Homo sapiens: one gene and its partners. The protein of the gene in region 2 binds, or shares a complex with, the protein of the main gene of each other region. Each region holds a gene or a part of one and is shown on either strand. Other genes may lie near its edges. A codon is read from its position in the direction of its gene.

Region 1 (7,111 bases), on a different chromosome or scaffold from region 2:
GTATTATTAAAAAATCAAGTTTTCCCGTAATTATTTTAAAAATGTAGACTATAATTTCCTCCAAAGTAGATAATGTCTTTTACTGTTATTTGTTCTCTTCAGTACCTCATGGTTTTCAGCATTTAGTAGGTATCTAATGAAAGCGTTCATTTAAGGAATGAAGTACAAGTATTTGTAGTATTAACTAGACCAGAGAGACCTTTGACAATATTTACTTTTCTCTAAGCTGCTAACCTAATGTACTGCAAGAGGATCTTGCACATATGTATTTTAAAATAAATGCTATGCAGATTTTATTAGTGTTTTATGTGATCTAATGTATGCATTTATGCCAGCATCAGTGAGTATGCATAGTTCAGAAGTAGTCTATAAGTTTTCCTAAGAATGAGGACCCTTGAAATTCCTTTTAATCTTTTGATTATATGTACTTTATTTCATAGCATTAAAATGTATAGTGAAGTTGTGGCATCGCAGGAGATAAGAGTCTTTAAGAAGGAGTAATATAAAAATGGAGTATGAACAAAATTATCCTTGAAAAATCTCTTAAATCTGCTATGAAGTTGAAAATACTAGTTTGTATATGTAAACCTGTACGATAATAAAAATATAAATATATAGTACATAATAAAATATGCCAAATATGTTACATACATTTTAATTTCATAACAAAGAAAGTGCTTAGAGTTGAATTCAAGTAGGTTCAAAGTGTGTTGATGCATCCACAATATGCTCATTGTTAGGAATTTGGATTGAATATTTCACTTTTCCACGTACAACTTTCTCACAAGTTGATAAGTGTTTATTTTCTATTTTGTATGTGCAGCCTCATATTTGTCTTTTCTCTCGTTAGAGACATCATTTCAGCTTTCCATCCATTTTTATTTATGGACATACTGCTAGTGGAAAGACCTATGTAACACAAACGTTGTTGAAAACTTTAGAGGTAAGAATAAAAATATTAAATATTTCTTTGCCATTTTTAGTGTATAATATTGGTACTGATAATTGTGAATCTCCACAAATGCAAAATTGAACATACCACCTTTACATTACTCTCCTTCCCATATTATCTTTCTCCATGAATGGTCTACTGTCATTGACACAGTTGTCCAAACTTGCACTTTCTTAACTCTTTCCTCATCTTCCCTCATTTAGTAAATCACATCAATAAACTTAGTCTGTTGCTTCACATTGTTAAAATCATGTCTCCATCTACCTTTAATCCTAGCCATTGCTGCTAGGATTTTCATTTACCATTGTTTTTTTTCCATGTATTTCTGTAAGCCTCTTATTTGCAATCTTCACCCAGCAGCTAGGCCATGCAAATCTTAATATTTTCAGGACAGTGTTCAAGTAATTCGCCCATTGTATAAGACCTTTCATGAGCTGAATTTATCTTTCATAACACAGTGGTTAAGAGTTTGGGCTGTGGAGTCTGGCAGACTCATGTTCCTTTTTGGATTCACCAGTTAGTGCTTTCTCCATCTGCAAAGTTGGCTCATAGTGACAACATTTGGGATTAAGAGAATTAAATGTTAGCACATGGAAAGTGCTTTCTGCAGTACATAGTGCGTAGTAAGCACTCAATAAAGGTTAGCTGCTATTATTGATGAGTATTGCCATACTCCCTTTCATATCCTAAACCAGAGATGGGCAGTCTTTTTCTTAAGGGCCGGATAACTAACATTTTGTGCTTGTGGACCACGTAGTTTCTGTCTCACCTGCTTGACTCTACTGTATTGTGAAAGCAGCCATGGGCATTCTCTATGTGAATGGGCATGACTGTGTTTCAAAGCAACAGTATGTACAAAAACAGGTGGCTAGCCCACAGGCTTTGGCTTGCTAACCCCGTCCTCCTCTAGCACTGAGGATGCACGTTTAGGATAGCATACTGAACTGTGTACAGTTCCTGCTGTCTTACTTTCAAGCCATGGCACATGTTGCTCCCCTACTTGGAATGGCTTTCCTGTACTCGCTCTTCCTGTTGCTTGGCAAATGCTTATTTATTTTGCCAGGTTTTCTTCTACTTATACTCTACAAGGTCTTTCCTGATCCTCTAGGCTGTATCAGATGCCCCCCTGTTTTGCAACCTTAGCACCCTGTGCTTAATTCTGTCATAATATTTAGCCTTCTCAGCTATGATTTTGTGTTTATGTTTCCCTGGCTTTAGATTGTGAGTTTCTTGAAATTATCCCCAGCACCAAGCACATTACTTGGCACGTATTAACTTGTGGATTTCAGCTTATTAAGTTGTAGATTTCAGCTTTTGATCTCAAAGATCAGCTGTGCATTTTAAAAAACACATATGCCTGGGCTATATACTGGACTTCAGAATCTGAGTGTACAAGGTCTTGGTCCAGGCATTTGCATTTCAGAACCCCCTGAATGAAGTGCCCCCAAAATATATGTTGAATAAAAGCAATAAAACCCAGTAAGGAAGTTTCATATTTAAGGACTGTATTCCATTTTTTATCACACTGTAGTTTCTGCTGTTACTTAATCAGTGTAATATATGATTATTGTTACTACTTCTGATACAGGGACTCAGACAGGCACTTAGAATATGCTGCCTTTAAAAGTCATGGATGGTACAAATGCCGTAAGCAAGACACTATTCATAACAGAGATGTTGTGGACTTTTGTTCTTAAAGGACAGTAAAGGAGTGAGAGAGAAGTGAGTTAGCAAATGCTGGTGAAACTGTCCCCAAGTAAGTTTAATGTGGCTTTAGTGACACTGTTATTCAGAGAAAGAAAAGCCTCCTTATTGGATAAAGTTTATAAAATCACTAAAAATAGTTACCAGTTCCATTATTTGTGCCAAGTGCCACAAGTTATCTTCCTCAGAATGAATCTGCTTTTGTGATCTTATTTTGAGGATAGACTGTATTGGTGAGCAAGTCTCGTTTGTGACCTTATTACTTCTGGAGTTAACTCATGTTGATATTTTGATAGTTTTTTAAATGAAGGGCTAGTTTTTTTTGTTTTGTTTTGTTTTTAAATGGGGTCTTGCTCTATTGCCCAGGTTGGAGTGCAGTGTTATGATCATAGCTCATTGCAGCCATGAATTCCTGGGCTCAAGTGATACTTCCACCTCAGCCTCCCAAGTAGCTGGGACTATAGATGTGCACCACCAGGCCTGTCTAATTTTTTTTACTTTTTTAAAGACAGAGTCTCACTGTGTTTCCCAGGCTGATCTTGAACTCCAGGGGTCAAATGATCCTCCCACCCATCCTAAAGCACTGGGATTACAGGCAGGAGCCATATGCCTAGCAAAGAGCTAGTGCTTACAGTCCTCGTAGGAGGATTGCTATGGTTTCTAACTCTTAAAATTCTTTTTTTTTTTGACTTAGTAAACGTTTATTCAAGGATATTATATTAAAGTTATAAGTGTGAAATTCCTATTAAGATTTTTAACATTCAAATATGCTTAGATTTCTTTTCTTTTTTTTTTTTTTTTAATAGTGACAGGGTCTCGCTATGTTGCCCAGGCTGGTCTGGAACTCCTGACCCAAAGCCTTGGGATTACAGACATGATCCACCATGCCTGGCTGATTTCTTTATAAGAATTCTTTATAGGAAAATACAAATTTGCTTTGAATTTCCATAAGAAAGAAATGGCAAGCTGAAAGAAATAATTGAAGTGAGTTTAATGAAGGGACAGTTTTATAATGGAAATTTTATGGGAATCACTAAGGGATGATGGTACACCAGGGCCTTTACCACCTCCAGGCCTGAAGGGACCATAGAAAGGAGCTGTTATTGGAACCAAACAAGAGGTGTAGCCTTAGAAGAGGGGCTGTCCAACTTGATCTTTGGTAGAAGAGTATCCACTGCCAAGCTAGGGCCACTGAGGGGTCATGGTGGGAGTCAAGGAAATCAATATCCAAACTTCTCTCCCACCATTCTCCCTTAGTCTCCTGCTGGTTCTTTCCATTGGCTTCTCCATCCAGAGACAGAAAATAAGAGAGTCCAGGTGATGTAATTCTGTAGCTGTCAGGCTCTTGGGGCATGGGGTGGGTTTGGTGGGATATAGATTTAGAAAGGCAAATGGAGACTATCCAGCACAGCCATTATTGTGTTTGTGTGTTTTCTTCTTTACTTACAGTGTTTTGGTTTTCGTTTTCAGCTCCCACATGTGTTTGTGAATTGTGTTGAATGCTTTACATTGAGGCTGCTTTTGGAACAAATTTTAAACAAATTGAATCATCTTAGTTCTTCAGAGGATGGATGTTCTACTGAAATAACCTGTGAAACATTTAATGACTTTGTTCGCTTGTTTAAACAAGTAACCACAGCTGAAAATCTTAAAGATCAGACTGTATATATTGTAAGTAATTTCATTTGATTAGATCATCTCTTATCTTGAAAACTGATAATTTATTAGATCAATTTTCATATATTTGTTTTGAGTCTCATTATGTACAGTGCTCTGTGCCAGGTGCTTTTAGTATACAGAAATGTATTAAATATATTCCTTATCCAAGGGAAGCTTCATTTAATAGAAAAGGTATGACACATACATACGACTACATGCAGAATGTGATAAGTGATTGTCACCAGATGCAAAATATTGACTGTGTGTGTCCAATACAGCTTCATGAGGTATTAGCATTTGAGACAGACCTAAATGAATCAGAGTATTCTAGGAAGAAATTGAAGTAGAGGAATTTCAGATAGAATTATATAAGTAAAGGCATGCAGCTGAAAATGGAGGCCAGAGAGTACCAAATAGTCTAGTTTTAGTGGGTTATAAAGTATGACGGGAGAAAAAGAAGACTGGAAGATAGGTTGGGCAGATTGTGGAAGGTCTAGAAAACTATACTAAAGCACTTCATTTAATTTCTTAGGGAGTGGATAGGAGATAGTAAAGACTTTAGAGCAACAAATATGCCTGGTTACTCTGAAGACATGTTAAAATGATCATCTTTGGAATTGGATAAGAACTACCCAAGACTGGATAGTTTATAAAGGAAAGAGATTTAATTGACTTACAGTTCAGCGTGGCTGGGGAGGCCTCAGGAAACTTATAATCAGCAGAAGGCAAAGGGGAAGCAAGGCACCTGCTTCACAAAGTAGAAGGAAGGAGAAGCTCCTTATAAAATCGTCAGATCAGATGTGAGCTCACTATCACAAGAACAGCATGGGGGAACCACCCCCAAGATTCATTTACCTCCACCTGGTCTCTCCCTTGACACATGGAGATTATGGAGATTACAAGTTAAGATGAGATTTGGATGGGGACACAAAGCCTGACCACACCATTCCACACTTGGCCTCTCCCAAATCTCATGTCGGTTTCACATTTCAAAGTCAACTGTGGCTTCCCAATAGTCCCCCAAAGTCTTAACTCATTCCAGCTTAATTAGCCCAAAAGTCCAAGTCCAAAGTCTCATCTGAGATAAGGCAAGTCCCTTCCACCTATGAGCCTATAAAATCAAAAGTAAGTTAGTTACTTTCTAGATACAATGGAGATACAGGCAATGGGTAAATACAGCCTTTTCAAATGGGAGAAATTGGCCCAAACAAAGGGGCTGTAGGCCCCAAGAAAGTCTGCAATCCAATAAGGCAGTCATTAAACTTTAAAGTTCCAAAATGATCTCCTTTGACTCCATGCCTCACATCCAGCCCACTGATGCAAGAGTGGGCTCCCACAGCCTCATGCAGCTCGACCTCTGTGGCTCCATGCCTCACATCCAGCCCACTGATGCAAGAGTGGGCTCCCATGGCCTTGTGCAGCTCCACCTCTGTGGCTTTGCGGGGTACAGTTGCCCTCTCTGCTGTTTTCACAGGCTGGCGTTGAGTATCTGTGGCTTTTCCATGCACACAGTGCAAGCTGTTGAATCTGCCATTCTGGGGTCTGGAGGATGGTGGCCCTCTTCTCATAGCTCCACTAGGCAGTGCCCAGTGGGGACTCTGTAGGGGGGGTCCAACCCCACATTCCCCTTCTGTACTGCCCTAGTAGAGGTTCTCCATGAGGGCCCTGCACCTACAGCCAACTTCTGCCTGGACATCCAGGCATTTCTGTACATCCTCTGAAATCTAGGCAGAGGTTCCCAAACGTTAATTCTTGATTGCTGTGCACCTGCAGGCCCCACATGTAAGCCGCCAAGGCTTGGGGCTTGCACTCTCTGAAGCAACAGCCTGAGCTATACGCTGGCCCCTTTTAGCCATGAGTGGGGATGCAGGACACCAAGTTCCGAGACTGCACAAAGCAGCAAGGCCCTGGCCCACAAAACCATTTTTCCCTCTTAGGCCTCTGGGCCTGTAATGGGATGGGCTGCCACGTGAAGACCTTGGAGACATTTTCCCCGTTGTCTTGGCTGTTAACATTTGGCTCCTTGTTACTTATGCACATTTCTGCAGCTGGCTTGAATTTCTCCCCAGAAAATGGGTTTTTTCTTTTCTACCTCATGGTCTGGCCACAGATTTTCCAAAGTTTTATGCTCTGCTTCCCTTTTAAATGTAAGTTCCAGTTTTAGATAATCTCTTTGTGAATGCATATGACTGAATGCTTTCAGAATCAGCCAGGTCACCTGTTGAATGCTTTGCTGCTTAGAAATTTCTTCCACCAGATACCCTAAATCATCTTTCTCAAGTTCAAAGTTCCACAGATCTCTAGGGCAGGGGCAAAATGCCACCCTTCTCTTTGCTAGAGCATAGCAAGAGTCACTTTTATTCCCTGTCCCCAATTAGTTCCTCATGTCCATCTATGACCACCTCAGTCTGTACTTCATTGTCCATATCACTATCAACATTTTGGTCAAAGCCATCTAACAAGTCTCTAGGAAGTTGCAAACTTTCCCATTTCTTCCTGTCTTCTGAGCCCTCCATCCTGTTCCAACCTCTGCCTATTACTCAGTTGCTATAACAGACTACCAAGGACTGGGTAATTTATAAAGAAAAGACATTTATTTCTCACAGTTGTGGAGGTTAGGAAGTCAAAGGTTGAGGTCCCTGCATCTGGCAAGGGCTTTCTTGCTGCCTCCTCTCATGATGAAAGTAGAAGTACAAGAGAGGATGAGAGTGAGAGCAAGAGGTGGCAGAAGTCCCTTTTATAATAAAGCCATTCTCTCAATAACCCACTCCCTTGATAACAATATTAATTCATTCA
Region 2 (7,111 bases):
TTAAGGAACTTCTCTCCTAATCATAGTTAACTCAGAGTTTTTAGCAACTATTGATTTTTAATTTTATCAAAAGCCTTGGAATACATTGAAGTCATCGTACGGTAAAGTGGCAGACAAGGTTATAGAATTAAAATGCCAACAAAAAAAGAAAGCAAGGAGACACTATTATTACTATTACTATTATTTGAGACAGGGTCTCGCTCTGTTGCCCAGGCTGGAGTGAAGTGGTGAGATCTCAGCTTACTGCAACCTCCGCCTCCCAGGTCCAAGTGATTCTCCTGCCTCAGCCTCCCGAGTAGCTGGGACTACAGGCGCCCGCGACCACATCTGGCTAATTATATTTTTAGCAGAGACGGGGTTTCACCACATTGGCCAGGCTGGTCTTGAACACCTGACCTCAAGTGATCTGCCCACCTTGGCCTCCCAAAGTGCTGGTATTACAGGCGTACATCACCCCACCTAGCCAGAGGACACTATTATTAAGAGACAAAGCAGGCCAGCGTGGTGGCACATGCCTGTAATCCCAGCGCTTTGGGAGGCCAAGGTGGGCGGTTCATTAGCTCAGGACTTGGAGACCACCCTGGCCAACATGGTGAAACCCCATCTCTGCTAAAAATACAAAAATTAGCCGGGCGTGGTGGCATACACCTGTAGTCCCAGGTACTCAGGAGGCTGAGGCAGGAGAATCACCTGAACCTGGGAGGCAGAGGTTGCAGTGAGCTGAAATTGTGCCACTACACTCCAGCCTGGGCGACAGAGCAAAACCTTGCCTCAAAATAAATAAATAAATAAATAAATAAATAATAAAAAAAAGAGACAAAGCAGAACAACAAGGTAGCTTTAAAAAGAACAAAAATAGTCACTTTACATTAATAGGTAAAATCATAGCATAACATGAAAGTGGCAAATCAAGACACAATTTTTATGTGCAGAATAATGCCGCATCAAAATACACATGAAAAACCTCTTAGAAACTGGGAAACACAGCAGTAGGATACTTTAAACTGTTACCATGACTTCTCTCAGTCTGTTACAGATCAGGTAGGTAAATTTAAAAACTACACTGAAGAATATAAGCTCTCACTGTTGCCAGGTTTCTACCTGCCTCGGCTCCTATTCACAGTGCTATACTTCAGTGTGGGTATCTCCTACAGTGCCAGTGCTGCTGCCAGTCTCTCTCTCTCCAGTTCCTATCCAGTTGTTTTGCTGGATATGCAGTCATCCACAGAATACTGAGGAGAGGGAGAGTTACCAGTCTTAATTACGTGCCCAAGTGTCTTCAGTCAGGGGACAGATGGTGGGCAAAATGCAGAGCATCTTCCTACTTCTTCAGTCAATCTGTTTCAACAACTGAAGCCAGTGAAGGCAAATGTTAAAGTCTGGGTATGTTTCCCTCATTCCTGCTCCATCTGCCTTATAATCAGGGTCAATTCCTCAAAGATTTTCGTATTATAACACTACCCGTTGGTCTTAGAGCCACATAATGAAAAAAAAAAAAAAGCCTAGCAAACTTCTAAAGCAAAATTCAAATCATACAATTATACACATCAGGTTTACTAGTACTAAAAACTATAAACCAATCCTAATAAGTTGTAGCTTAAATTCAATACAAAAAGTTCTAAATAGAAACTTGGCCTTATATAATGAGAGGCAGTATTAAGCTATGGTTAAATCATGAGCTCTGGAATCAGACAGGTTGGGTTCAAATCCTAGCTCTATCATTTACTAACATTATAACATTGAGAAAGTTATATGTCTAAGTATCCTTATATATTTCAATGGCGATAATACATTCCTTGTAGTTTGCTGAGGGGATTAATCAAATTAACACATATAAAATGATTGAAACAGTCTGGGTCTATAATCCCAGCGCTTTGGGAGGCCAAGGCAGGTGGACTGCTTGAGCTCAGGATTTGAGACCAGCCTGGACAACAAAGTGAGATCTCACCTTAAAAAAAAAATAAATAAATTAGCAAGCAAGGTGACATGAGCCTGTAGTCCTAGCTGAGGCTAAGGCAGGAGGATTCCCGGAGCCCAGGAGCTCAAGTTTGCAGTGGACTATGATTGTGCCACTGCACTCCAGCCTGGGTGACAGAGTGAGATCTTGTCTTGAAAAACAAAACAGTCTGGCACACTGTAAACATCCAAGAAATATTAACAACTGTATTAGTTATAATTACATTGGTGATGATATTAGATGTCACTGCATGCTATGTGTCCCTAATGATAATGGGGGAACAAGTCTTTAATTTTCTCTGACCTATTTCTAGTAAGTTGAGCAATCTGCAACATTAAAGAAATGTGTGGCCAGGCATGGTGACTCACGCCTGTAATCCCAGCACTTTGGGAGGCCAAGGTGGGAGGATCACTTGAACTCAGGAGTTCAGGACCAGCCTGGGCAACATAGTAAGATCCCATCTCTATTTTAAAAAAAAATTATATATATATGTGTGTGTGTGTGTGTGTGTGTGTGTGTGTATATATATATATCATTACTTAAAAAAAATCCTATTCTATATATTCAAGTTATCCATTTATTTCCTTAGTCAAACAGTGGCATAGTTCATTTTTTCAATTCAAAACTAGTACATGGGTATGCTTAATTCCATATCATAATTTTTCCACTGGAATTAATTTTCACAGTGCTGAATATGGAATGTATATACTCAATAACCCTGTGGGGAGCTTTTGAAAAATTCTAACACTTAGGCCCCACTCTTGAGATTCTAATTCAATTGATCCGGGTTAGGGTCTTAGCATTGGCACAGGTTGAGCATCTCTAATCCAAAAATCTGAAATCCTCCAGAATCTGAAACTTTTTGAGTACCAACATGATGCCACAAGTGGAAAATTCCATATCTCACCTCAAGTGACAGGTCGCAGTCAAAACACAGCCAAAACTTTGTTTCATGCACAATATTATTTAAAATATTATGTAAAATTCGTTTCAGGCTATGTGGTTAAGGTGTATATGAAACATGAATGAATTTTATTTTTAGACTTGGGTCTCATTCCCAAGATTATCTCATTATATACAGGTATATATTTCAAAATCTGAAAAAATTCCAATAACCAAAACACTTCTGGTCCCAAGATTTGGGATAAGGAACTCTCACCCTGCATTTTTTCAAAGTCCCACAAGTTGGAATTGAATAAGGTCACTAGATTGTATTAATATCAGTTTCTTAATTGTGACACTGTACTATAGTTATGTAAGATACTGCCACTGGGGATAACTGGTCGTAGGGTACTTACTGGTGGAAGAGTATTACCTGTAATTATATGTGCATCTACAATTATATTAAAATAAGACTTTTCAAAGTTCCCCAAATGATTCTAATGTGAAGCTATGATTGAGAACCGGTGCAATAAATACATTCTGATAGTAATACTGGATTTGATTGAAGAAGTCAAGTCTTCTTAATTTGATCACTAAACAGGTATCAGGATATAAATGAAAAAAGTGAAGACAGTATCTTTTTTTATTAATTGAATTTTATTGAGGTATAATTTACAAATAATTAAACACAACCATTTTAACAGTTTGACCCAGGTATATACTTACATAACCACTCTGTCAACAGAGAACATTTCCATCACTCCAGAAAGTTCCCTCTTGCCTTTTTGCAGTTAATTCCCCCTACTTCATCCCAGGAAACCACTGGGACTTTAACACAACCTGTGTTGTTTTTGCCTTAAAAAAAAAAAAACAACAAAAAAACAAACAGCCGAGCACAGTGACTCACACCTGTAATCCTAGCACTTTGGAAGGCTGAGGTGGGCAGATCACAAGGCCGGGAGTTCGAGATCAGCCTGGCCAACATAGTGAAACCCGATCTCTACTAAAAAATACAAAAATTAGCCAGGCATTGTGGCGCATGCCTGTAGTCCCAGCTACTCGGGAGACTGAGGCAGGAGAATCGCTTGAACCTGGGAGGCGGAGGTTGCAGTGAGCTGAGATCATGCTGAGAGCTAGACTCCGTCTCAAAAAAAAAAAACAAAAACAAACAAACAAATTAGGCTGGGCACAGTGGCTCACACCTGTAATCCCAGCACTTTGAGGTCTGAGGTGGGAGGATCACTTGAGCCCTGGAATTCAGGACCAACCTGGGCAACAAAGTGAGACCCTGTCTCTACAAAAAATTTTAAAAAATAATTAGCCAGGCGTCGTAGCGCATGCCTGTAGTCCCAGGTACTTGGGAGGCTGAGGTGGGAGGATCATTTAAGCCCAGGAGTTTTCAAGGCTGAAGTGAGCTATGATCAGGCCGCCGAACTGAAGCCTGGGTGACAGACTGAGACCCTGTCTCTAAAATAAATCAACAAACAAAACCAAAAGAAATGTCTTTCCTCTCTTACACACATGGGTATATGAGTGTGTGAGTATGCGTATGTCTGAGTGAGTGATAAAAATCCACTCCCTTAATATCATGAGTATGTGTGTCTATGAGTGATTAAAACTCAATAATTTAACAAATTTGTTTTATGAAATGAAGAGTGATTGAGAACTGTGTGGGACCCTGGTGCTTCCGAGAGATGATGGAGGGTGCAAACTGGTAGAAAGGATGTGAAGACTAAGAGAGGAAATCTGGGCCACTTGGAAATATGTAGCCATTGTGAGAGTAGAAAGTCTTCTGCTACTCATTCTCAGCTTTTTCCCTTCCCTCAGGCTAGTGAGAGATAGGAGTCTTGGAACACAAACTATAAGGCCAAGGTGGTAACAATCCATAATAACACAAATTTATTCACATGGTATTTATGATAGTCTTACAAAGCACTACATGTTAGCTCTTAGAGAGATAGAATGAGAATAGGGAGAAATCTTAGTGATAAGTGAGTATAGTTGCTCATTTTACAGATGAAGAGACTTAGGGAAAGGTTAAACAGCAGGGCCAAAGCCATAGAGCTGGTCAGGCTCAGGATCACACTCCAATTCCTTTACTTATAGTCCAGGTGATTCCATAACTTTGTGCTCTAGCAGGTAGAATTACTGTAAGAGATCCAAGACCTTGGGCTTTTTTCTCAGCATGTATTGATGTGCACAGCATTTATCCCTAAGTTAGAACATGCAGTATTCTAACACACATGTAGTTACTAAGCCCTAAGTTCTAAAATGCTCCATACAGATAGATGATTGCTTTAATTTATTTTGCCAAGTTTATTCATAAAATGGAATATCACATCAAAATTTTTAAGCATATTTAAGTCTCCCCATGAATATTGTATTTTAACTCAAAAATAATTTTTATACAATTTTCATTAGAAAATATATACAAATTTATAATCATTCTTTCTTAGGTTTTCCTTATGTTACCAATTATCATTTTATTTTCTAAATAACATTTCCCCCATCATTAGAAATCTGGGTTGCCAGTCAGCCTTTATTGTTTTGATTACTTCATCAAGGATCAAAATGTTTCTCTAGCAGAAACTCACTTTCATTTCTAAAGTTGTAGATAAAAAAACAATGGCAGAGAAGTAATCAAAAAGACAATCTCTTTTAAAGAATAGCAGCATATCCTTTGAAGGAAATTTGCTTCCAACTTACCTTTGGAAGGTGTAATTGGATTCTCTTTTCAATTAGAGCCCTGGGGTGTCCTCTTATCTCTTTGACCAATGCCTTGGAACATAAATGCTACATCAACATGGCAAGTAAGCCAAGGTTAGACAAGAGAATTACTAAATTCAATTAGGGTTAGTTCCTAATAGTTTAAGAAGGTAGGGAATAAAAAATTTAATATTCAGACACCTTACCTATTGGCAGAGAGATCTTTCTCTTTTTGGAGTTTGGCTTAAAAACAAAGCAACCCTATAAAAAGAAAGACGAAAAGCATAAAGTCAAAGTAGCCAAGGAGCAGAGAAATCTGATTAACCAAATATTTTATGGGTAAGCACTTTTTTAAAAAAAGATGTTAGGGGAGAGAACACATTTCTTTCAGGTTCTAAGAAATCACATCACTTCTCTCTGACCTATAGAAGGAAAATTCTAAAACAACAAGGGGGACTATCTACTCTCTCCCCTCCCTCCCATGAGATGCCCATTTTTGATTTTGCTCTTTGACACCTGATCTAAGAGGTAGACAAAGAAAATAAAAGCTGATTAAATTTAAGCCCAGAAAGGTTCCATTTTCATAAACTTAAAGGAATTAATACTACACATTAAAATGGGCTGGGCACAGTGGCTCATGCCTGTAATCCCAGCACTCTGGGAGGCCAAGGCGGGTGGATCACAAGGTCAGGAGTTTGAGACCAGCCTGGCCAACATGGTGAAATCCTGTCTCTACTAAAAATGCAAAAATTAGCCAGGCGTGTTGGTGTGAGCCTGTAATCCCAGCTACTCGGGAGGCTCAGACAGAAGAATCACTTGAACCCTGGAGATGGAGGCTGCAGTGGGCTGAGATCGTGCCATTGCACTCCAGCCTGGGCAACAAAGAGCGAAGCTCTGTCTCAAAAAATAAATAAATAAAAATGAAGATTAAAAAGGTTGAAAATAGTGATGTTCTCCCAACCCGAAACTTATTTAAACTCGAAGTATCTATAACCTTAGTAGTAAATAGATAATTGCAGCTGTTTCACTCTACATACTTCTCTTCATCTGATAAATGCCTACTCATTTATCCATTAAAGTTTGACTCAACACTCATCTCCTTCAGGAAACCTTTCACAATTCTCTAGCCAGAAATTCTCCTTTCCTCGAGATCTCTCAGTACTTGAACATCTTTATTTTGCATTGTTTTAAGTCACTTTAATTGTATATCGTAGTTGTTTATGGGTGTGTCTCCCTGAGTAGACTGTGAGTGCCTTCAAGCACAAACTGTATTTTATTTATAATTGTTTCTCCAATGTTTGGAATAGTGCTAACATACATATTAGGCAATCAGAATATGGAATGAATAAATGCTTGCCAAATAACTGTCCTGGTAATTTCCCAGCTATGTTTAGTTTCATATTATTGTTTGACCAGTGGTAGATCACCCCCAAGTTAGTGGTCCTAGTCTATTCTACCAATTCTAAAGTCATACATGATGGATAGCTTATAGTTTTTTTTTGTTTGTTTGTTTGTTTTTTTGAGACAGAGTCTCGCTCTGTCGTCCAGGCTGGAGTGCAATGGTGC
Region 3 (6,997 bases), on a different chromosome or scaffold from region 2:
GGGCAACAGAGCGAGACTCCATCTCCAGGGGGGAAAAAATCTCCAAAAATTAAAAAATAATAATTTAATAATTTGCGGTTAAGAAAGGTTTATGTATCCGAGTTGTTCCAAACATACAGGTTTTACAGTAACTGAATCAAGTGTCAGTTTTTAAACTTAATTGAACACTAAATAAAACTAAAAATTCAGTTCCTCAGTCATACTAGCCACATTTCAAGTGCTCAAAAGCCACACGCAGCTAGTAGCTACTGCAATGAATAGCACAAGCATAGAACTTGTTATCTGGAGTTTAAACTACGTATACAATTCAAAGAACAATGACAGCCTATAAGACCTACATGAAGATAAAAGTTGCCATCCCAGAAGAGAGTAATGCTCCAAGCACAGAGAAGATATTGGCCATACTGCTAGAAATCCCTGAGTAAAACAGACAACCCAATTAAAACAAAAAACAAACAAACAAAAAAACCTCCCAAAAAGATTTAAAAAGACAATGCACAAAAGATTTAAGAATTAAAAAGACAATTCTAGAAAGAGGAAATTCAAATAGCCGGTAAGTTTTTGAAAAAGTGCTCAAACTCTTTAGTGTCCTGGGCAGAATAAATTAAAACAACAATAAGATAAAGCCACATTCATCAAGTTGGGAAAAAGGAAAAATAACTCTTGGTGAGACAGTAAAAGTAAAGGGATCTACCATATACTGCTGTCGGGGTATACATTGGTGTATCTACTTTGGAAAAGGCATAACTAGTGAAGTTGAAGATAAACATACGTACTCTACAAAAACCCATGGTAATGTACATTAAGAATACATGTACAAGAACATTCATAATAGCATTGTTCATAACTACTAAAAACGGAACACAATCCAAATGTTTATTAATATTAGACTAAACTGTGGCTCATTTCCATTAAGACTTTTTATACTATACTTATTATACTATAGATTACTACAATCCAATATAAGAACTAGAGCTAAATGTACTAATAGAGTTATATCCCAGCTGCATGAGAGAAAAAGATACATAATGATATGTAATATATAATCCACTTACATACAATTAAGAAACAGGCAAAACGAACCTAAATTGCTTAGGAATGCTGACATAGGTGGTTAAGAAATACTAAGAAAGAAAGCAGTAAATGATTGCCATAAAAATCAGTATAGTGTTAACCACTGAAAAGAATTGAGGAAAGGGATGATCAGGAATAGAATGGAGAGGGGAGCTTCTCAGGTGCCACAGACGTTCTAGTTCTTGACTGTGGCAGCGCTTACATAGAGTTCACACTTTATAGTTTTTCATTATACTATGTATCGATGTTTGTATGCTTAAATACTAAATGTATGGAAAAAGACACAAAATATTTAAAATTGTAGCTAAGGCACATTAACTGCCTTGCTGGTATTTTTTTTTTTCATTACAAAGTGGCAGACAATTGGTTACACTATAAAGACAGACAATTGGTTACACTACAAAGAAAATTTTAAAGCACAGGAGTCTAGTTTTGATTCCATCGGACATGATTACCGTACACAATACAGAAGATACTAAGGGCTAAGCAATGATGCATAAACGGGGTCCACTGCCCAAACTTACAGAAAGCAAAACGTGGAAAATTAGTAACTTTAACTGATAGTGTACACCTAAAGAACCTACACCGGCCGGGCGCGGTGGCTCACGCCTGTAATCCCAGCACTTTGGGAGGCCGAGGCGGGAGGATCATTTGAGGTCAAGAGATCGAGACCAGCCTGACCAACATGGTGAAACCCCGTCCCTACTGAAAACACAAAAAAATTAGCCAGGCGTGGTGGCACATGCCTGTAGTTTCAGCTACTCGGGAGGGTGAGGCAGGAGAACTGCTTGAACCCAGGAGACAGAGGTTGCAGTGAGCCGAGATCGCGCCACTGCACTCGTCTGGGAGACAGAGCGAGACTCCGTCTCAAAACAAAAAACAAACAAAAAGAACCCACCCAACAGAATTAAGTACCAACATAATAAATACGAAGAATTTTAGATTCTTGGTTTTTAAAAAACATACAAAGATGATATTCCTTCAAAATATCTTTACAAAACATATTGAGACTGTGATGCTTTATATTGATTGTATGAAAACAATGAAAAAGAACCAGCACTGTTTCACTATAAAAGCTTTACTAATGTAAATTTATAAATCCTTTCTTAAATATTTTGAGTTAATTCTAATTTTATGATAGAAATTCATTATTTTCAGCAAAAACAGCTGGCATTTGGGAAACCAAAGGCTCAAAAACTAAGAATAGTAACCAAAGAAACTTGACAAAACAGTCCTTTTAAAACTCTCATCTACACTATAAGGGGAAACTTTGATCACGTCCCTTCTCCTTCATCAATCGTAGAACTCAACATTAAGGACTACACAATCCCACATCCCTCTCCGAGAAAAAGCAAAGGCTTTGTGTTGTAGCAACAACGCAAGACATGGAGGGAAGCTCCACTCAAGACTTCCCTGCCTGCTCCTTCCCCAAAGCCACTCCAGAATACCAGGGAGGGTTGAGAGGTAAGGCATGAAGGGCGCAATATCCAATATGAGCAACGCGTGTGATGCATCTGGTCAAAATGCATACAGAGGACTTGTCTCTGTCCCTAGATAGAAGTCCTCCGTCCTGCAGTCATGAGGGTCAATTGCTGAGGCTTCACAGTTCCCTTCTCTCTTACACTCGGACCGTCACGCTCCTCACCTACTACCCCGATGCAGAGGTAGACTCAGGATCCCTGCACTTGTCAAGGATTCCTCGGCAAGCTCACGGGGCGGGAGTGGCCACAAGACGGAGCTCGCCTGGTCCTGGCCTTCCCGGCCTATACAAGCCTGCCCCCTTCCCAATTCCCAATCTCCACAGCCTTCCATCCTCCCACTTTCGATTCACCTTGCGCCACCGACGCCCCTGGCCTTCGTTTGCAGCAAGTTTACCCCCACCATTACCTCTCGCATAAAAGCCTGCATTTACCAGGTCAAAGAGGGGAACCAACGCCTGCAGGAATCGCTTCACCGAATCGCCTGGCCGCGTCCTCTGCTAGACTTCACCTGCCGCTGCGGACCGTACACAACCACTCCCGGCATGCCCCGCGCACGCACTACCTCTCCCACCCCGCCCCTCTCCCGCCCAAACACGTGACCTCCTTTCGTCTCCGTCCACGCCCACTTCCGTTCCTCCACTTTCCCTTAGGAAGGAGGAGGGAGCTGGGGGTGTTAAAAGCGTAGCGACTTCCTCCTCCTCCCCGCCCCCGCTCCTGTACCTCCCGCTACAATGTCTTCCGGGTCGCTAGCGCCTCGACGCCTTCTGGGAAAATAGCTCATTTCCTCCCCTCCCCCTCCTCCTGCCTTCAACCAACCAGCCACCCGTCAGAGAGGGACATGCGCAGTGAGTGCCTCCCGTCTCTTCTACCCGAACCCCCCCTCCCCCCCAAGCAGAGAGACCCCAGCAGCAGCAGCAGCTGATGATGAAGAGAGAGGCAGTGGCAGAGGGGGGGCACCTTTTATTTCTATTTTTAAAGGGACAGGACACTAATTCTACCCCACTTCAACCTTGAATTCAGGGGGGTGGGGGGAAGGCGGCTGAGTTCCTTCCCCCACCCTCCAGCCCTGAGCCCTGAGAGGGGGATTGAGCCTGAGAGAGGAGAAGGAGTTTCTTCTTCTTCGAAAACCCCCATCCACGACTCCTACCCCCTCACCCCTCCAACTCGCCTCCCTCCCTCCACCCTCCTCCTCTTTGGCCGTGAGAGGAGGAGAGAAAGAAACCAAAAGCCTCTTAGCAACACAGACCCTTTGCTGCTGCTGTTGCTGCTGCTGCTGCTGTTGCTGCTGCTGCTGCTACTGCTGCTGCTGCTACTGCTGCTGCTTGGCCCTGGCTGGAGACATCTCACTACACCCAGGAGCAGCCACTTCCCCAGCTCTCCTCCTCCTCCTTCGCCTCCTCCTCCTCCACTCCCCCCCTTTATTACCCTTTGTGTCATCCTCCACAGCTCCAGGGAAGGCACTCAAAAGTGGGGGGCAGGAAAGGTAAGTGTGTCTGTGGGGGCTTCATTGCCTTCCTCTGGCTCTGACTTTCACTCCGGGGCAACAGTAGCACCAAACCACATACGCAGTGGAGCTCCGGGGTGAGGAGGGGGTGGTGCTGGGGGGGGTGAAGGAGGGGTTGGAGTAGGGAGGGGTGTGTGAGGTGGGGTGCCCATCCTGTCAGGGGAGGAAGGGCACTTTTATTTTTATTTGCTGTTGTCAAAAGTGGTTTCTCTCCTCCATCTAACATCTGATTGTGTCTTGCTCCAGTGGGGGAGAATACAAAAACAACCCCCTCCTTCCTCCAATGAGGCGCCAGGGAAAGAGACAGAAAGAGGCACACTTTCTAGATGTCACTTAAAAAAAATTCATTGGAGAGCTCTTTTTCTCCAGGAAAAGCTCCACTGCATTTGTTTCTGAGTGGGAAAATGTCGGGATCTGGATTGTATTGGAACTGCTTATCCATTTGTAGACCTGAGTGTTTTCCCCTTTTTGGTCCTGTATGAGATTTGGATATTGACTTCAGTGTTGGAAGACTTGATTGGTTTTTGCTTTAAGGGTTTCATTTTCCATTTTTTCGTTTTGTCTGACTTCCATGGAAAATTTCAAATTTTTAGTTGGTAGAGGCCTTTGGTTAGGTTTTGACTTGCATTATTGCTTTTTTTTTGGTTAAATGTCTGTTTCATATATCAGTATATAAAGTCCAAAGCTCTAAAATGCTTAAAGTTTAAATGCCACTGCTATTGTCTGTTCCCACATACGTTCCTGATACTTATTTTCCATATGATGAGAATATTAGCTATTTTATAATTAATCTGGGTATATTTGTAATCTTTGTAACTTGTCTGAACAAGTAATCCCCATTGAAAACTTTATGTTGTTCTGGCTGCATGGAAGGCCAAACCTCTCCATCAATAGTTTGCTGGATTGGTACCACTTTCAGTTTTAGCTGAATTATTTATTTACTGTTGTAAATTGAGATGAGTTTTTCATCTCAATTTCTCTTGGGGTTCTGAACCAAATTGCCCACTGTATGTAAAAGTACACAAATTTCTAAAATATGTTTTCATGAGTCAAAGAAATCATGAACTTATAGTTAGTATATTAATTTCAGTTAGCTATAAATTGAAAGGTAAATCCAGATTTAAGTTTATGGAATAACAATATTGATAAAAATCACTTCATTTTTGTATAATGTGTTCTTAGTGCATAGCTTTAAAATTCAGTGCTGTATTTTATTTCACAAATGTTAGAAAGTATGTTTCTGATGTAGGCCTTTTACTAGGGCTTATATTGGAAAGTGTTATTTTGTTTCATATATACATTTCTTTATTCTTTCCTTGAAGATGGATGCACACATGCATATACACACACTCTCTTTCGCTCGCTCTCTCTCCCTCACACCCTTTTTTTTTTTTTTGTAACTGCATTGGTATCTCTGATCCCATAATTTATGTCAGCAAAAAATATTCTTCTGTAAAGCAGCAATTTTGTGATCAGACTGGCAATATGAAAACAGCAATTTGATCAACTAGAAAGGATTGAAGAAATATAAATCTAGAAGGATATTTGGCAAAAATATTATAAAGACATGATAATACTTCTAATTTTTTATTTTCTTGATGGTTAAAGCTAAAACATATATTTTAGTGACAGTGAAGCATTGCATATGTAGAAACTTGTTCTGTAAAATTTTAATTATCAACTGTGTGCAAAAGTAGACATTTACATACCGAAATAAAAAAGCTTTATAGCAGTAAACAATATGATCTTATTTCCCTTCTGTTATAAATTTGAACAATTTTTTACCTTTCTCTGAGATGTAATTAGTGCACTTAAGCAGAAATCTGTGCCAAGTTCAAGTTTTTCTCCCAACATCAATACTGCCATTCCAAGTCCTTGTAAGGTTTCTTGTTCTCACCTTAAAACCTCAGCAACTTTAAAGGTAAGAGAGAGACAGTAGAACTTACTGAAGAAATTAATTTTAGGTAAGGGAATTATGTAGATAATTGGGGTGGTAGTTGCCCAGTAGGCAGCTGAGTAAAAATTTAGTCTTGAGTTTAATGTCTTTCCTTATTTTGTTTCTTTTTTTTTTTTAAACATTTTTTTATCACACCCCTCACCCTCACCCCCATGATCCTTTATGGTTAGAAGATTGCAGACTTTATCTAAGTTGGATAATGATTTATGTTTAGAAAACCTTTTTAAGTATTAAGAACCATTGATACTTTAGGATTGTAATTGTTCAACTGGGTGGTATCTTGGAGGTCACTTTATCCAACTCTACCTATTGCTGAAGTTCTAAGAACTTGAACTTGCCTGAGGTTCCAAGGCCTGGAAGTGACAGAGCAGGGACCAGGGAACTCAGGTCTCCTGATGCTCACTATGCTGCACTACCTCATTTCCTTTGTCAGAAATGAAACTATTATGTACAGTTCTGGGTATACCACTTGAGGGTTTCATATGGGAGCATGTTATTGTAAGAATATTAAGGTAAATGGCTTTAAAGCTATTATTTTGTCTACTTAAATTTAGTAATTTGTTAATTTTTTAAAGTACTAATTGCACTTATTGTAGGTTATTACTATTTTGAAAATAATTTCAGCTTTCTCTAATACTTATTTTCCTCCTGCACTTACAATTAATCAGTAAATATACTTACTGTTGTATTAAGGGCCCATACTTATAAGAATAAATGGAATGCATATTCTCTTATAAATGCTTACTTGTGAGTCTTGCCCTATGAACTGCCTAAAAACAAACATTTTTGTTTTGTTAACACATCCTTCTACTCTTGGCACAATATCTGGTACACAGTAGTTCCTACTGGTAGCTTGTCATAATCCATGTTAGTTTTAGAGTTAGGCATATTTGAATTTCTTTACTTCCATATGTGGAATTCCTTTCCTCTCCTTTTCTTGTCCTCCCTTGCCACAATTTTCACTATCATGAACATTTTTTC

What was found.
Region 1: the proteins of ORC3 (region 2) and ORC5 are in contact, whole or in part, in a cryo-EM structure (PDB 7JPO), measured with the Homo sapiens proteins. Residues at the interface, in NP_036513.2 of Homo sapiens: Glu99, Val109, Met144, Lys145, Leu148, His178, Ser180, Met181, Asp182, Glu223, Asp232, Ile235, Ile236, Gln239, His240, Ala253, Thr254, Ser255, Pro256, Ile257, Ile258, Ile259, Arg261, His265, Ser269, Cys272, Ile273, Glu274, Leu275, Ser280; in NP_002544.1 of Homo sapiens: Asn62 (codon at 4,145), Val64 (codon at 4,151), Glu65 (codon at 4,154), Phe67 (codon at 4,160), Thr68 (codon at 4,163), Arg70 (codon at 4,169), Leu71 (codon at 4,172), Gln75 (codon at 4,184), Tyr129, Leu270, Arg271, Ser274, Ser275, Ser276, Gln277, Leu294, His297, Thr298, His299, Val300, Glu301, Leu302, Pro303, Tyr304, Tyr305, Ser306, Asp360, Tyr367, Arg373, Pro376.
Region 3: the proteins of ORC3 (region 2) and ORC4 are in contact, whole or in part, in a cryo-EM structure (PDB 7JPO), measured with the Homo sapiens proteins. Residues at the interface, in NP_036513.2 of Homo sapiens: Thr227, His260, Arg261, Leu262, Leu263, Pro264, His265, Ala266, Ser269; in NP_001177808.1 of Homo sapiens: Pro370, Lys374, Glu377, Gln381, Ser392, Gly393, Asn394, Ser395, Gln396, Arg397.

The regions. Positions count from the first base shown.
Region 1 is NC_000007.14:104,197,974-104,205,084, reverse strand, and holds part of ORC5 (origin recognition complex subunit 5), read left to right. Parts: intron 1-850; coding exon 851-943; intron 944-4,126; coding exon 4,127-4,327; intron 4,328-7,111. UniProt on the Homo sapiens protein: Component of the origin recognition complex (ORC) that binds origins of replication. DNA-binding is ATP-dependent. The specific DNA sequences that define origins of replication have not been identified yet.
Region 2 is NC_000006.12:87,593,048-87,600,158, reverse strand, and holds part of ORC3 (origin recognition complex subunit 3), read right to left. Parts: intron 5,809-7,111; exon of another isoform or gene 5,807-5,808; coding exon 5,752-5,806; intron 5,633-5,751; exon of another isoform or gene 5,546-5,632; intron 1-5,545. UniProt on the Homo sapiens protein: Component of the origin recognition complex (ORC) that binds origins of replication. DNA-binding is ATP-dependent. The specific DNA sequences that define origins of replication have not been identified yet.
Region 3 is NC_000002.12:148,017,647-148,024,643, forward strand, and holds the start of ORC4 (origin recognition complex subunit 4), read right to left. Parts: upstream 3,092-6,997; 5' UTR 2,987-3,091; exon of another isoform or gene 2,962-2,986; intron 1-2,961. UniProt on the Homo sapiens protein: Component of the origin recognition complex (ORC) that binds origins of replication. DNA-binding is ATP-dependent. The specific DNA sequences that define origins of replication have not been identified yet.